Regions from separate parts of the Homo sapiens genome. Here region 1 is linked to region 2. The links come from fine-mapping of genetic effects on gene expression. Tissue or cell type: neutrophils. Region 2 holds a variant in brackets; the other region holds the start of a gene. All regions are shown on one strand. Distances are from middle to middle. Region 1 holds the start of LINC03015 (long intergenic non-protein coding RNA 3015). Region 2 holds the start of LOC105375116 (TRIO and F-actin-binding protein-like).

Region 1 (8,930 bases), 21 kb after region 2:
AGGTCATGGCATCTTTCAAGGTGACTCTGTGCAACCTGACTTCCAGAATCCATTAACTGCTCCTCCCCTCCTGCCTTCAGACCAGGGTGAGAATAGCTCTGCTATTATTAGGTCCAGAACACTGCACTTTTTTGGTAGTTTTCCAGCCCTCTGCCTATGTCTCTGCAAACAGTCCCCTTACCAAGCCCTCTGGGGATGACGCTAGTGTGCCCTGCGTTCCCGCTGGGACATTGACACAGACAGAACCCATACAACAGCAGAACTCCCCAGAGGACAGCCTCACCACGTGCACAGTGAACGGCCTGTGTGGGTGCTCCAAGACGACAGCCTCACAGCGTGCACAGTGAACGGCCTGTGTGGGTGCTCCAAGACATCAGAGGGGTCCCAGAGTTCTCCAGAAAAAATAACTATTCCACGTAGCTGCTAGCGTGAGACGCTGGGCCAACCCGAGCATGTGGGGAAGGCACCTTATGCTCTGCCATCACCCACAATGTGATGGTCTTGGGGGTGGGGCTTTCCGAGGTGAGTAAGTCATGAGGACCCGTTGTCGTGGAAGGCTTGAGTGCCCTTATAAACGAGGCCTGAGCTGGAAGGCGCTGTGAGGAACAGGCCCTCCCCAGATGGCAACTTGGTCTTGGACTTCCCAGTCCCCATAAATGTGAGAGATGATTGTCTGTTATTTTAAGCTTCCCAGTCAGTTACAGCAGCCAAACTTCTATCAAAAATAATAAAAGAACAGCAATTAGAAGTTTAAGAAATAAAAGGTCTTAGTTTAAATATAAAGAAACTTAAATGTGGCAGGAATTTAAAGAAATAATGGAGGACAAGGAGAAAGCGCATCTGACCTTAAGGCTGGGAACGATTCCTTTGAGTGACTCAGGGGTTGTGGTCCTGGGCCTCAGGGAGGGACATATTCGCCCAGCAGACGGCTCAGCCCTGGTGCACACCCTTCATACAGATGTGCACCAGGGGAAATTCAGTTACGGTTAAAGGGCTAAATGCATACTTCATCAGCTCATCAGCTATAAAAGCAATCCTCTAATAGGATCCGGGAGATGAAAGAGGGAGTGGGGAGGGAAGGGTGGGGCTGGAACCTCCTGGCATTACAGGGTAGGGACCACCGGACACTGTCAGAAATGACGCGACAAGAAATAGCCTTGAGTACTTTCAATTAAAGCAACAAAGGCAACCACAGACAAGCCAGGCCTACTCCCACCACTGCCACTGCTGGCCGCGAGGGAGGAGGCCAGCAGAGCCCAAGTCCCTGGCGCGTCAGTGCCGCTGTGCTGCTGGTCCCCGCTCACCTCTGCCTCGTTTTCGGGCTCTCTGTGTGTCCTGACACCTGTGCCTCTCACTTGGTGGTCTTTCCTCCGTCCCTTCTTGTTTGCCCGGCCCCTCTTACAGTGTAGCACTCTAAAGCAGCTTTTCTTTATGGAAATCTGTTTATTCCAAAGCTCTGAGGCAGTGTTATAAATATTGGTTTAAAACATTAGCCAGGGGATTACTGATAAAATATAAAATAGAAACAATTTCCCAAGGAAACTTCATCTAAAAATACACCAGTTTCCCCTCTCACCTCACTTGAGTAGAGGCACCAGAGGGTGTGTCAGGACCTGTCTCGGGGTGAAGGTCTCACTTCCTCACGCCTCTCCCACATGGCTCCCAGGAATCCCCCAGGAATGGCTTGGAAAAAAAAAATCTGTGACAATGGAGAAGAGTTGCCCCCAAAGAAACGTGCATATAAACAGCTCTTCCAGCTAGAGAAAAAAAAATTCTGCATAAATAATTCAGATTGCTGAGCTTGGTCCCTCATGCCTGTAATCCCAGCACCTTGGGAGGCTGAGGCAGCAGTTTGAGACCAACCTGGACAACATAGCGAGAGCTGGTCTCTACAAAAAATACAAAAAATTTAGCCAGGCATGGTGGTGCCTGCCTGTGGTCCCAGCTACGCAGGAGGCTGAGCTGGGAGGATCACCTGAGCCTGGGAGGCTGAGTAAGCCAGGATCACACCACTGCACTCCAGTCTTGGCGATGGACTGAGACCCTGTCTCAATGATCAATAATAATAATAATTCAGACAAACCAGGTCGAAAAATGTCCTGAGACGGTGAACTCAGGACCCAGCTACCTGGGGTGGACACTGTGGCTGATGGACCGGAAAGGGTAACACCAAAGGGCTCTAGGAGGTGTCTCATGTCTGGCTGTTGTCACTCCCCTTGGCCGCTGAAAGCCTTTCTGTTCCCCAGAATCGAGTAAGGAGCTCCTGGACAGAAGTGGGGAAGGAGTCTTCCTGCTCAGGGCTATGTTACTTAACTCCGTTTAAGTGACAGAGCATGAACAGGTCATATTAGTGTCACATGCACCCGATTTCATTCTCCATTTGCAACAATGAAGACTGTATAACGACATTGTTAAATACCCCAGAATTATAATTAAATCTTATTAGCCAATAGAATCTGAGTGTGCTAAAATCTCTATTAGCCGGGACTGATGTAGCCACGATGGCCATGCTCGGCGCGGCGGCTCACACCCGTAATCCCAAAGCATTTCGGGAGGCTGAGGTGGGCGGATCACGACGTCAGGAGTTTGAGACTAGCCTGGCCAACATGATGAAACCCCGTCTCTACCAAAAATACAAAAATTAGCTGGGTGTGGTGGCACGCACCAGTAATCCCCGCTATTTGGGAGGCTGAGGCAGGAGAATTGTTTGAACCCAGGAGGCGGAGGTTGCAGTGAGCCGAGATCCTGCCATCGCACTCCAGCCTGGGGGACAAAGCCAGACTCCATCTTGGGTGGGGGTGGGGAGGAAGAGGAGAGAGACCAAGCAGCAATATCATCGATAACAAATTACAATCCAAATTCTAGGCGGTGTTCTGGGACTGGTTCACATCCAGCTTGGTCTGGCCTTGCCACTCCCACAGGGCAGGACACACTGAGGTCTGCCTGGGGGTGCCTGCTCTGGCGGCTGGGCTCCCCGCTTTCTGCAGGCTCAGGTGCCCCCTATTCCTGCAGCCCTTCCTGGACCCAGCCTGTCCTCATCTCAAACTCGGGGCTGCTGGCCTGAGCTTGATCCCTTCACCGTTTCTCACTAATACGTCACTCTCGCCTCTTAAAAGATGACAAAGACTCTCTCCTTTGACCACACTCGAGTCAGGCTCCTCTGAGCCCTCCCTGTGACCAGTCCCTGACCTTGGCCGGTTTCGGCCGATTTAGCAAGAATCCTGCTGAGTCGGTTTAGTGAAAATCGTCTACTCTTGGTCCCTGATCAAAGTCCTCAACTCCCACCCTCGGTCTGTGACCACACTGCCTGCCTTTTCAGCAAAAATCCTGTCTATGCAGCTAGAACCCGCCTTGCCCCTGACCCTTCCTCTTAGTAATTTTCTCTCCACTCCCGACCCTACGCCTGGGCTGTCAATTCCCACTTTTTCTATCTGGAGTTGAGCCGGATCTGCCTCCCCTAACCCAACATCTCGCTTTAGCAGCCCCCCCACCTTGAATAAAAGCAGCCTTGCCCTCTTTAACAATTAATAAGCACAGACTGGGACAGGACATCCCCCTCCATCCCAGCGCCCATGCACCCTCAGCCACGGTCCTCAGACCTCAAGAAACCCAGCGGGTGACAAGCTTGGGTGTCAGCGGGGCTGGGATTGCTGCTGGGGGCACAGGAGCTCGGGAGCACTTTGCAGGTGAGCAGGGCCTGGACAGGGGCTTCTCTGCAGCCCACCCCTGGGGAGGACTCCGGGCCCTCGCCCTGGACGGCAGAGCTCGTTTTGCTGTTGCCCTACTGTCTCCGCGACCTTGGGGGTTCACTTAGCACCCCCAGGCCAACACCTGGCCTCTCCATGCACCAACACCTGGCCTCTCCTTCCCTGGCCTGCCGCCCTGCCTGTGTCTGGACTGTGGTTCACCGAGTGTGCACGTGGGCCTCGGAGGCTGCCCTATAGAGCCCAAAGTCCCAGGGAGGAGCAAAGGGGACCAAGTGCACACTCACCCAGCTTCCTCTGCCCGGCAACGTCCCTGCCCCCATCTCCCCTCCACCGCCACCAGGGCCTGCATCCCCATCTGCAAAGGGGACAGGGTGCCCACGCCTTCTGAAGCACGCGCTCTCCAGGCCGCTCTCCGGGCGTCACCCCGCCCTGCTCCCCTCGCCCCTGCACAGCCCGAGTCCAGCCTGGTCGCTGCCATCAGGACGATCAGGACCGACCGCCACCATCAGTGGGGACCGGCCAGGGCGGTTAGGCCCGGTCCGGGGCCCCAGGTCCCGCGTCCCCGCCGAGGCCAGGCAGGGAGGCCTGGCTGCCCCGGGCTTTAGAACCAAAATAAGCCCCGAAATGATTGGCGGCGCCCATGCGCCAGGAGAAAACCTAAAGGACGAACGTTCCCGAGTACATATAAGGACGATTAATATTTATTGCACAACTTTTTTTTTTACTTCCTTGTTAAAGAGGAAAACCTTACGCTAAAAATAAAACGACTAGGAGCCCTTGTGCCTGCGTGGGTGGCGCTCGCGCCTTTAAACCTGAAGCCACAGGGGCTCAGCCCCCCACCCGCGCAGGGCGGCTCCTGCGCATGCGTAAACAGAAGGGGTCGGGGCGCGGCCCAAGACGACGCCAAGGGAGCGGACGGGCGGGGAGGAGGTGGCCTCTGCGCAGGCGCAGAGAGGAGCGAGCGACTCCTGCGCAAGCGCAGAGTGAAGGGCCGGGAACAGTGGAGGGTGCGAGGAAGACAATGGGGGAGGACCCTGAGGCGGCCTCTGTGAGCCGACAGGAACACGTGGTCGATCAGAGAGAGACTCGTAAGTGCACGGAGCTGATGAGGTGACTATGGCGTTGCGCAGGCGTCCTGTAGAGGCGGGTTGTCATCGGCGCAGGCGCGGTGTGGAGGAAGCCCCGGCGCCGGCGCAATGAGGAGGCGGCCGGACTCGGCGCTGGCGCAGTGTGGAGGAGGCTCCGGCGCAGGCGCAGACGCAGGGCGGGCAATGGCCGCCTGGGTCTCTCGGGCAGCCCTGCCCACCTCTCTCGCGTCTCCTGGTCTTGGCCTGCGGCTCTCTTTCTGGCAGGTGCCGCGGCGTCTCCTGCGGGCCTGACCGTGTTCTCCCGCCTAGCCAGGCTCTTCTGCGCTCCTTTTTTGTTGAGATTTTTCCATCCCCTGCACAGGAAGTGTCCTTTAATTACTCCAGTGTTTTTTTAGTTACTTTTTAAGAAACATTTTGGACTTTTCGATACAGAATAGTGTCAAAAAAAAAATTTAACCTTCTTCAGGTTATATTTTAGTGAATGATATTAATATATGTTCCAAAGTTGTATGGGATTTCTAAAATTCTAATTTTTCTGAGTATATGCTACCGATCATAATTATGGTTATGTTGTTGTTATAACCAAATTTCTTTGTCAATTGTGTCTTTTTGAGTATTTAAAGTCATTTCCGCAGTTAATTGCTTCATGCTGATGTAGTTTCTGAAAACTTCACAAGCACACAAAAATCCTAGAACATGGTGTCTTTTAGGAGGTTCGTGAACGGATGGGGAGGACCCTGAAAAGCACTGTGGAATACAGGTTTCTAGTAACTTCAAAATCACATCATTTGGACTGGGTAAGAATTGCTGAAACTTTAATGAAAAGACTGACTGGCTTATAAAACTGCTAACCCAAATAGAATAAAAATTAATTGAATACCGAGGAAATGCTTCACCAGGTTTGCATACTTAATCAGCCTATACTGAAATTGTTTAGATATACAATTTGAATGAACTCCATGGTCTAAGTCAAATTACCTGTGATAACCCATCAGTTATCCATGCTATGTGCCCAATTTGGAGAAACAACTGGCACCCAAGAGGACATAAGTCCGATGTTAAGCATGGACTCATGGAGAACCAAGATGGCTGCCTTGTCCTTCGTGAGTCCTTAAAGCTTTTGTTATTAAAAGTTATGCATTCCATGACTCATCCTGGAAAAGATAAAATGATCCAAATTAAATATGTTGGTGTGGTGACTTACAGATTGTTAAAATAGTTTATAAACAATGTTTAGTTTGTCAAACCCATACTCCTGGGAAGTCAATCAAAGCTTCATGTACATTTGGCTACCTGATGAGGCATTTAAACATTTATAAAGGGGTTTCATTCAGTTGTCATTTTCAATGTATGTGTTCTGGTTGTACTAAAGCTTTCCCATGCAGGAGGGCTAATGTTATAACAGTAGATTACTATGTATCAGTGTATTTTCACCAGGTAAAGAGCTTTTTATGGTTCACTGAGGACAATCAACCCCTTCACAATCTAGAACCCAAAGATGGGATCTTCTGAGAACATCAGAGAAACGCTGCCCTTGGCATCATCACTGCAACAAAACATCAGGATCTTGAACCTTGGGGTCATAATCTCACAACTGAGCAGGGTCACTCTTGGAACTCTACATCCATTGAAACCCTTAAGGTAAAGCTAATCAGGGAAGTTTCTCCCCAGAAGAAGATGGCATCCTTGATGTGAGCAGCTCTTTCTGAAGATCATGGATCAAGACTTCTTACTATCATGAGACTCTTATCTTTGAATGTTTTTCCGTTGCTTCCGCCTCTGTGAACAACAGAAGTGAGAAGGGGGTCTGTTTTGTGCACTTATGGGGTATACTTTTATTTGTGAAGGGCTTTGCAGCCAGCTTTATACATGGATAATCTTATAACTTGATAGATAAAGATGAAGGCCCAGTGTATCATAGGTGAGAAACTTCAATGGTACATATGGTGCCTCATAATCATTCAGAAGCAGAACATTGGTTCACTCCTCTTAACCCACAGCATGGGTTAAAGAGACCATTGCCAAGAGGCCTTCCCTCTTCTAGAAGGGCATCATTTGTTAGGTCCTTTTTCCATGGTTTGGAATTAAAAAGGCAATGACTAGAAACATATCCCTCATGGTAGACTCTGTAGCAGATTCTACTGTAAAGGCTACACAACAGATGTTAAATTCTCTTGTGAAAGTTATGCTAAAAAATAGAATTGGCTAAACAGGAAAGTACCTGTGCAGATGCTGGCACTTAAGGCCTATGGAGAAAACATCAGGTGTTATAGAGAGTCTGTTGTAGGGAATTAACGAAAAGACCACTGAGTTAAGTCAAAGAATGGTCTATTTGAGTTTAGGTGGTCTGGTTTATGGGGACCCTGGCTAAGGAGCATACTCCAAATTCTTGGTGTTAACCCTCTCAGTAGTCATAAGAATAGTCTCCCTGGTGCACTGTATTCTCTCAAAGGTTTTAAATGTTTGCATGAAGCCATCTTTAGAACGTCAGATGGTCTCTCTTCAACTGGAATGACAAGAGCTGAAAGAAATGTGTGACCACGAGGACACCGAAACCGATGAGTGACATGCTGAGACTGGAAATCCAAAATGATAGTAACGGAGAGTGGCGCTAACATCCTAAGTTTTGGTCACACTCTTGCCTAAGTGACAACCTGACAAAGGGGGAATTTTTTAAACAAAATGATGGGAGGCCATTGTTTTGGACTGAGCACTAGGTCCCAACAGACCAAACCGAACCAAAATGGCATCATTCGTGCTAAATGTGACATAATCGAATTAAGACTTTAAGGAAACACATGGGTCCTAGAATAGACCAGGTTTTGTTTTTCTCTTGCAAACAGGACTTTCCAGCATAAGGTGGTATCCTCAACTCAGTCCTTGTTCCTACCTTTGCAAAACTCACTGTTCTGCTTCCTAGTGGGTTTCAAGACCAATGGTGACAGTGACATCAATAACTCAAGTTTCGATCAATCTCTCAAAACTGATAAAATGACCAAAAAGGGGGAATTGTTAAAGCGAACTAAATATGGCCTGAGAAGGACTCCGTACTTCTGTATTGGAGTCCCTGTGAACAAACTGAGCCTAACTTAATAGGTAGACAAGATTGAAAACCTAAATTAGGAGTATGTACCTGTCACAATTGCTGAGTCTCGGCCAGTCCCAGCAGCCGTACTTCAATCACTCATACACTGCTGAATGTTCAAACTGTGTGTAAATAAGGCAAATGCCAACCTGTAACTAATCCAGGTGTTTCTCTACCTCACTTCCCTTTTTTTGTCTATAAATCTTCCACCACGTGGCTGCACTGGAGTCTCTCTGAATCTGCTGTAATTCTGGGGGCTGCCCGATGTGCAAATCATTCATTGCTCAATTAAACTCCTTTAAATTTAATTCAGCTGAAGTTTTCTTTTAACAAGAGTGAGATAAGAATCTGTGTTCTTATCCCCCAGAATGGACAAATCAGTAGCGTTCCTTGTCATTCTTTTGTGGCTGGTTTCACGTAAATATTTTGTGTGTATGATAATAGAATTTGATTTTAATGAATATACTTTAAAAGCAACTTTTTTTTTATTCTTCCTCACCATCGAAGATGGAGAAAAATAAGAAGGGCTGTCTTGCGGTTCCATTTCTTTTGTGGATAGTAAGAAGCGCTGTCTTCTGGTTCCGTTTTTTTTTTCTGGATAGTAAGGATGTTTATCTTACTCTGTCTTCATTGTCCTCAAACCTCAAGTAGTCACTAATACCCTGGCTATGACAGCTTTTATCGTAGTGTTAAATGGCAGATTTATTTACTTGGCAAACATTGTCAAGTCTCAGAAAAATTACCCCATGGTCTTGCCTTCTTCCCTCGTGAATTGCCTTCCACTGATGGAGAGGATTTGATCTGTTCCCTGCTCATCAATTTTTCTAGCTTCTTTGGGATGTCCGCTCTGCATATCTACTAAGGAATTAAGAAATAATGGCTTCAGCAAGAAACAAGGCAGGAAAGTGCAGTGACATGAGGACCATACAGGGAAGGAGCTGTCCCCAAAGGTGAGAATGGCCCTGGACAAGGGTTCTTGCTGTGACTTCACTCAGACCAGACCACCTTGACCTTTTCATCACCGTGCCTCAGCGAAGTCAGTCGTTGATT
Region 2 (8,526 bases):
GTCGCCAATGCACCTGCCTCAGCAGACCCTGAGTTCGTGTGCGTCACCTGGCCCCGCAGAAGCTGGGCATGCTCAGTGTCCCACCACAGGGAAATCAGGACGTGTCCCTTTGGAAGGCAGCTAAGGGGTGCAGAAAGGGTTTGGGAACCTCCTTCGTGCATACCTGTGTGTACCTGTACATGTGGATGTATGCACATGTGTATGTACAAATATACGTGTGAGTGTGCATACACGTGTGCGTGTATGTGTGTGTGTACATGGGTCAGTGCATGTCTGAATGTGCACAGCCACTCCCTCGAGGCCCAGGGAATGGGGCCTCTTTTAAAAGGGCCAGAAGCTCCAGCTAGCTGCCTGCTCCTCCCCACCCAGGGTGCTAGGCATGGGCCCCCCATTCTGAGGGGCTGCACTGAGACTGAGACAACCCTGGACCCAGGCCTTGCCTCTCTACACTGGAGTAACTCAGAGAAGGTGACAGCCAAAATTCACTCCTGGTCTGCCAGGCACCAGGAGGCCCTCGCACACCGCTGCCTCTCCCTGGCATGCATGGAGCCTGGGGTCCCTAACCCTAACCCTAACCCTAACCCTAAGGGTCTTGTTGCACGTCACCTGCTGAGTGTGGCTCGGGAGTGTGGGTCTCAGAGCAGGAGGGGCCCTCTTTGGAATTCACCCTCTGCGAGGCTTCCACGCCGGCCGGCCTCCTCTTGGTGGCTTGCTGTGTCTGGGCCCTGGCCTAGCCCTGTGGTGACCTCATGCTGGGAGTGCAGAGCCTCCCTCAGAGCCCCGGGCCCCATGGCCCCTGGAGAACCTCCTGCTCCTCAGCGATGGGTCCTGGAGAGTCCACAACTCCACTCCGAAACCAGATCCCGGAATCTGAAATCAAGCTCACCGGACCAGTGTGTCCAAACTGCCCCTAAATCCTGTGGCCGTGCCCCTTCCCGACAGACGCCCCGTTAGCTCCCGCTGCAGGCAGGCAGCCAGCGTTCCTGAGGCCTCAGGCTGTCCTCTCTCCGCTCACAGCAGACTCCCCACTCCCTTCCTCGCCCCTCTGTGGGCAAACCAGGCGGCTCAACCCATCCCGTGTTCATTAACTCCCTCGTCTACAGCCCCTGGGGTGGGCTGGCCCAGCCGAGAGAAGGTTCCCTGCGGAGGTCCCTGCCCCATCTGTGGACACAGTGCTGAGACCCCCTCGCAGTCCTCAGAGAACCCAAGCTTCGGCACTGGCAGCGCGGGGCGGGTCCTGTCCTCCGAGAGCCTCAGCTGGACTGGGCTGACCTGGGCCCTCTCCCTCCGCACTGGGCTGACCTGGGCCCTCTCCCTCCGCACTGGGCTGACCTGGGCCCTCTCCCCCCGGACTGGGCTGACCTGGGCCCTCTCTCCCCGGACTGGGCTGACCTGGGCCCTCTCCCCCCGGACTGGGCTGACCTGGGCCCTCTCCCCCCGGACTGGGCTGACCTGGGCCCTCTCCCCCCGCACTGGGCTGACCTGGGCCCTCTCCCCCCGCACTGGGCTGACCTGGGCCCTCTCCCCCCGCACTGGGCTGACCTGGGCCCTCTCCCCCCGCACTGGGCTGACCTGGGCCCTCTCCCCCCGGACTGGGCTGACCTGGGCCCTCTCCCCCCGCACTGGGCTGACCTGGGCCCTCTCCCCCCGCACTGGGCTGACCTGGGCCCTCTCCCCCCGCACTGGGCTGACCTGGGCCCTCTCCCCCCGAACTGGGCTGACCTGGGCCCTCTCCCTCTGAACTGGGCTGACCTGGGCCGTCTCCCCAGCTCCTCTGACCCGCTCTTGTCAATAGGTGTTTTTCAGGCTTCCTGGTTTGCTAAGGGCCCGCATCCCTCTCCTCACTCCCCTCGTGAAGCCAGTGTCACAGATAGGCTGGAGTGGGCTGCCTGAGAGGAGCTGGCCCCCTTCTCCGCACGTACCTCCAGCTTGCCCCAGGGACCCTCATGGCAGCTGGACGTTCCCACGAACACGAAGTGTCCCCCACTCTCCAGGAAGGGCCCAGGTACCCTCTGTTCTCCAGATCTCACTGGCTCTGCTCCCTCCAGAGGGAGCTTACAGAGAGCAGAGTCTGAGGCCCTTGATGCCAGGATGGTGGGGGTCCCGGGGTGGCTGCGGCTCCTCCAGCCCCAGAACTGTGTCTGGTGTGGTGTTCCACTGAGCAGGGTTTGCAGGCCTGTATAGAATTCCAGGAGCAAGCCCTTGGCCTCCTAGCCCCTGTGCCCCACCCAATACCTCCCACTTGTCCCCATGTGCGTCTCAACCTTGTGTCCAGGCTGGACCCTCACGCGGGAGCTGAGCCCTCCAGGGGCCCTCCCCTGTCTGCACGTGCAGGTGCTGCGCCCGGCTCCGTGCAGATGCTGTGCCCAGCCCTCTACTCTCCGCAGTGTCCAACACAGAACTGAAGCGTGCCCCAGCAGAAAACGCAGATGACCGCATATTGAGATTTTTTAAAATTTCTGTGAATGTAGCTTTTAAAAAGCACCTGAAAGTAAAATGATCATTTCTCAACATAATATTAGTCAAAGAAGTTACTGAGTACCTTCTTGGAACTTGAAATATCCTCCTGAAGACAGGAAGCCAGAGGCAGGAGAGGAGGTGTGAGCCGTGGGGCTCTGGACCTGAGAGAGCTCCCCCTGGAAAGCAGTGAGAGAAGGGTGCAGGCTTGCAGTGAGAAAAGGGCTGCCCTGCAGCGCCGTGGCCCTGGGCTTGTGCGTCCACACGCAGGCACTCCGGGCGCCCTTTGCGCCCAGGACACGGAGGGGAGGGGACACGGCCTTCCGTGTGGGTGTCGGGGAGGAGGCCGGGGTGGCCACAGGTGGGCGTGCGCTGCTGCAATGAAACCAGCCGTGTTGAGTGGCTACACTGGAGAGAGCTGCTTCCCAGACAAGGGGAGCCGGGAGGGGGGTCGGGGAGCCGGGAGGGGGTCGGGGAGCCGGGAGGGGGTCGGGGAGCCGGGAGGGGGTCGGGCAGCCTCAGGACGGCCAACCCCTAACTGTGAAGGAGGTGGTTGTACAGGCCCTTGATGGGGACAGCTTCAAACGCTGCTGTCCCACGCACAGAGCTGAGACTTTATGTAAATTGCGAGATGGCAGCAGTGCCCGTAACGGCGGTTTTCCTTGTCTGTTGCTGCTCAGCAGATGACCCTGGCCTGGATCCTGAACAACAGGACGACTTTTTTCTGTGGCCGGGCGGCCTCTCCCGACTGCGTGGTCTCCAAGCTCACTCGCATGGCGGCTGGTGGGATTCTCTCCTGGGGCTGCCGGCACTGCCTGGGGTTCCTGCTGCATGCGCCTCTCCGTGGGGCCCCTCACTTCTGGATACTCCCCAGAGGACGCCAGCAAAAGGGTAAGACAGGCCACAGGTGTCCCAGCCTCAGCCCAGGGGAGGCAAGGCAGCCTCAGGCCACCCCCGGGACAGGCTGCATGGGGTGGACACCAGGACATGGGCTCACATGGCCGACATGCACATGGTCTGCCATGCGCCCCAGATGCCCACTGATGGCAGAGCGGGTGCACAGCCTGTGGGGTACACACAGGAGAATCTGGACAG[G/C]AGTGAGAAGTGAGGACCCCGCCACTCTGACATAGCTACGACAGGACTTGTCTCAGCCATGATGCTGAGACCAAAGGGCGGACCCAAAGAGGACCTGTCCATGTTCCGTTTGTAGAAAATCCTACAGCAGCCGAACCAATCCACAGTGTCAGATTCAGAGCAGCATCAGCGAGAGGAAGGGGGTGGTGGATACTGACGAACCAACCCTTGCGGGTCCTGTCAGCGCCCAGCGAGTCACCGGCTCTGTCTCTCGCCCCTCCTGAGAGACCCCAAAGGTCTCATCTGAAGTAGGTGTTTGTGGCCTTGTAAATCTGCTCAGCCTCTTTGGAAATCAAGACTCACAAGTGATTCACTCTCACCAACTCGACAAGGCCATTATTCGATGGAAGAAACAAGAGACAAAAATAACAAGAAGAAGACAAACTTCCATTTCTAAAGGCATTTGTGGTATTGCCTGTAAAAGTATTTAAATTGGGAATCAAGAGAGTGTTTTCAGCATTTGAAGGATGGATGGTGAATAGTGATTTAGGAAATTAACGCAATATGTACAATTATTGGCAATGACGTTTTCAAAGTGACAGATCTTGAGAAGACAGTGCCGATTGTAAGTTAAAACCGTGTTCTATGTGCACTAAGATGGAAACCATGCGGAATACGTCCCCGTGAGTACTTCAAGGGATGCAGATCTGTGTGAAATAAAAAGAATGTGTAGAAGTAACGGTCTATGGGTGTGTGGCTTCCGCAAGTCTCTCTAACAACAAGAGAGCTTTTGCTCACAGAGGAGATGTAGGGCGTCAGGGCCCCGCTGAGTGGGCAGGAGCCACCGGGCTGGGTGTGCAGGATCCAGGCGGACCGTGGTGCAGGGAAGCAGGGCCCAGTCTTGGAAGAAAACAGAGTCCAGGGCTGGAGGGAGCTGAGGTCGGGCGCCCGGGCTGAGGAGGGGCTGGCAGGTTCCACTCCAGCCCCCTGCCCAGATTCATCACCATCCGAGAAACCAAGATCAGTGACGTCAACATTCTCCCAAGATGATGCTGGAGAAACTAATTATGGAGAAAAAAATGTTAAGAGAATGGAAAACCAGGTGTGTGCATGAACGTGTTTTTACCTTTGAATCAATTGTGATCCGAGAGCCTGATGTCTGGAGTGCCGTCTGGGGGACAGGACCCCCGGCCTTCCTTCCACCGTCCTGGCCGTCACTTAACCAGGGTCTTGACGGCAAGAAACAAATCACCCACTGGTTCATTTTACAGCTCATTAGGCAGGCACAGCAGACACCCATTACCGCCTTTGGCATTAAGGAGATTTTGAGATGGAGGCACTGCGAATGACGCTGGGATTAGCAAAGGTCAGAGCGAACATTAATGGAATTCTCATCCGCACAGAGTAAGTGGATCCATTTCCTGGTAATGGTGTGGGAGCTATTAAAGCAAGGTTGGAACCCACACAACGAGGAGATGGCAGATCCGGGCAGGACCGAGGCCTCTGCCTAATGCACTGGTCTCTACCGCCTGGGGAGGCCCTCCGGAGGGGAGGGATGCCTGTGTTCCCCGGGCGCTGGGGCACAGGCGGACCTGATGGTGCTGTTTCCAGCAAAGGCTCCACCTAACGATTTCCCCAGCAGGGTCTTGAGCTGAGGCAGAGAGTAGCTCAGGTCCATTTTTCCTTTGAAATGATCCTTGTGACTTTTAACGTGGAAATGCTTTAGATTCACTGGATTATATATATAGATAGAGAGAGAGAGAAATGACTCACTTTGTCACCCAGGCTGGAGTGCAGTGGTGCGATCACATCTCACTGCGGCCTTGACCTCTCGGGCGCAAGCGATCCTGCCACCGTGTCTCGCTACGTTTTAATTTTTTGTACAGGTGAGGTCTCACTACGCTGCCCAGGCTGGCCATAAAGACCTGGGTTCAACAATCTGCCCACCTTGACCTCCAAAACTGCCGGGATTACAGGCATGAGCCACCACCACACCTGGCCTGGTACATATAAATTTTTTTCATTTTGAAGACCTGCAAATAAAATTGAACAAAACCTCAAAATGCAGCTGCTGTGAGGGTTTTGAGGTGGGGGTTGGCAGAATCCTCCATCAAGCCTCTCACCAGACCTCGGGCAGCAGGGACATCCCTGCAGCTGTGTGGGATCTGAGGGGCCCTGGTGAGACCTTGTACTGTGGGGAGTTCCAGCTGTCCCTTTAGACGGAGACACCCAGCCAACAAGGGGACTCACACACGCGTTTCCTCAAAGTGGACGCCCACTTGGGGAGGGCGGCTTGGCTACCAGCACCTCCTTCCATGGTGAAGAGCACGCGCGGTCAGAGACGGATCCGCCAGGGACACGGACCCTCCAGGAGACGGATCTACTAGGGACACGGATCCACCAGGGACACGGACCCTCCAGGAGACGGATCCACCAGGGACATGGACCCTCCAGGGACATGGACCCTCCAGGAGACGGATCCACCAGGGACACGGACCCTCCAGGGACACGGACCCTCCAGGGACACCCCAACCCCAGCCGGACTGAGGATGCCCATGGGACTCTGGCCAGGGCCTCTGCAGCAGCTGCCCCGAGGTCAGGACTTGGTCCACACTGCCAGTTTCTCTGATTGTTTACCACCACCCTCCCCACATCACTCCCACCTCAGGCCCAGCCAGAGAAGCCACGGGTGCTCCTCTAGCCTGACGTGTAGGACGGCCGGCTGCCGGCAGCCTGGAGCTCCCCCACCCGCTGGACACAGTGACGTTTGGCCCCGAGGCCACCGGAGGCTCCTGTGCAGAGCCTGTGTTTGCTCCCATTGCAGGCCTTTGTGTATCTCTGCCTGCCCCATATGTCTGGTCATAGATGACAGAGGCTCCATACCTCAGCATCCATCAGAGGTGGCACCACCCTCAGACTTAGACAAGGCGCTCAGGGAGGGCAGAGCTGATGTTCCCTTTCTGTGTGTTTGTGTTCTCCTTTCTCAGGGGCTATCCTGGAGTCGCAGTAGAACTGGACACAATACAATCGAGAGGTGGGGTCCTGGTGCTCGCTGTCCTTGTGGGAACACTGTAAAAGCATCTGGCTGCTGATCAGACGAAAGTGCACAGCAGGCAAGGAAGCTCCTAGCACGGTAGAAGCTCATTCTCCACGTTGAGAGACGTGAATAGAGCCTGTTCCTCACACAGGTGCTGACTTGGAGCTTGTGATGTGTGTGGTCAGGACGCAGCACCTCCCGCTGGGCCACCGCAGCCCTCACGAGGTCCCTCTCGGGATGAGCTTCGTGTCTGCCTTGGGGGCCTCGGGGGCTCTGACACGGGGGCAGGAGGGATGGCCTCGCGCTGTCTTGAGTGGAAAATAAGGGAAATGTCCTTGGAAGGGGTGATTAGGGGGCAACTTCTGGGGGAGCTGGGAGAAGAAAAGGGCTCTGAGGCTGGCCTGACGGTCCTGCCTGTGCAAGAAGAGGAAGCAGGAGACGCTCTTGTGATACCAGGAACACCAGCTCCCACTGGGGAGGAGCCCAGCCTGCAGGCAGAGCCTCCAACCGGCACCAAAGGGGACGCCAGCCGGCCAGGTCTCGGGAGGAAGGGAGGGTGGGTGAACACCAGGAACCTCCACCCAGGGGCCTCGGCTAAGCCCTCTTCTCAGCGGACACCCTCACTCCAAGATGTCTCAGCACAGGGGCCTCCCCAGGGCAGCTGCAGCCTCAGGAAGGGGCCGTGAGCCCCACACCCCACTTCCTTCTAAGCCCACGCCTTCCCGCAGACCAGCTCCTGGGTCAGGTCCTGGCCAGTTGGGAAGGGCTGGGCCTTGTGGGTTCACCAGAGACACTGTAGGGTAAGCAGCCAGCTGAAGGGGTTAATTTTATAGGCTCGAGGAACACGGCTCCTTTCAGGTTGCTGGTAGGGCTGGGAACGAGGGGCTGTGTCTACACAGACATCCCCATTGTGGGGCTGATTCAGGGAATTGATTCAGAGGCCACACTCGGACGTGCACCTGCACAGAACTAGGGCACCCCACCTGTGTGGAGCACTCGCCGTCCTGTCGTGAGCCTGGGGGGCAGCGGTGGCCTGGCATGGACCCGGGCACACTGACCCTGCCCCGCACCCCAACGGTGGCCAGGAATTTTCTGGAGCCACAGGGCCCTGCCACATGCACCATGCAGGGAGGTCCACGGATCCCCCAGGGAAGAGCAGGTGTTGTCAACACCAAACCACAGGTGGCAGGGCCCTAAGGGGCTTTCAAACACCCCCCACTAGAAGGTCAGACTCTTGGTCTCCATCCATCCCCAGCACGAGGTCTGTGCAGAGAGTGAGGGCACTGCCTCTTCTAGACCTCCTTGTCTGGCCACGCGTGCCCTTTCCCCAGCTGTTCCTGTTCCTCCAGCTGCTTCTGTGCCTTCCCTCACACTGTTTTCTTGAGAAACACACAAGCATTTGCTCCTTTCCGGTCTCTACTCATTAAAGGCCTTTCATTCCCCAAGCACTCAGAGAGACTTCCTCTGAGCAGCCCCCTCCAGCCCACCCAGTGGCCACTACACCCACTGCCTGCGTCCTGCTGTGTCCCCCAAGGCTGGGGTGAGACTCTCACATGTCTCACATAAGGAAGGAGGGAAAGAGGGAGAGAGGGAGGAAGGGAGGGAAGGAGGGAGGGAGGGAAGGACGGAGGGACAGAGAATAGGAAGGAGGAAGGGAGGAGGGAGGGAGGGAAGGAGGAAGGGAGGGAAGGAGGGAGGGAGGGAAGGAGGGAGGGAGGGAAGGAGGGAGGGAAGGGGGAAGAAGAGAGGGAAGGAAAGAAGGAAGGAGGGAGGGAGGGAGGGGAAGTTCCTCCACAAACCAGCCACCTCCCCCCATCACAGCCCTGATAGGACTGCCCAGCCTTTAGCCCACAGGAGGATTTTAAGCTGCTGCCTGTATGTACTTAGAGAACAGTTTATGGTTGCTAACGTATAATTTTCAAAAGGGTAAAATCGTGATTCTCCAGCAAATGGAAAAT

What was found.
Region 1: LINC03015 starts here. The variant in region 2 is fine-mapped to the expression of LINC03015 in neutrophils (BLUEPRINT, PIP 0.95).

What each region holds. Positions count from the first base shown.
Region 1 is chr7:145,194-154,123 of GRCh38, reverse strand. LINC03015 (long intergenic non-protein coding RNA 3015) reads left to right here and starts at 4,686. Exons shown (of 3, transcript NR_134325.1): 1 at 4,686-4,795; 2 at 5,506-5,592. It overlaps LINC03014 (long intergenic non-protein coding RNA 3014), which reads right to left and starts at 4,406. Exons shown (of 2, transcript NR_108065.1): 1 at 3,992-4,406; 2 at 1-715. RefSeq lists an enhancer at 4,661-4,955.
Region 2 is chr7:165,916-174,441 of GRCh38, reverse strand. LOC105375116 (TRIO and F-actin-binding protein-like) reads right to left here and starts at 1,271. Exons shown (of 4, transcript XM_017012903.3): 1 at 1-1,271. The variant G/C (reference allele first, on the strand shown) is at 3,553.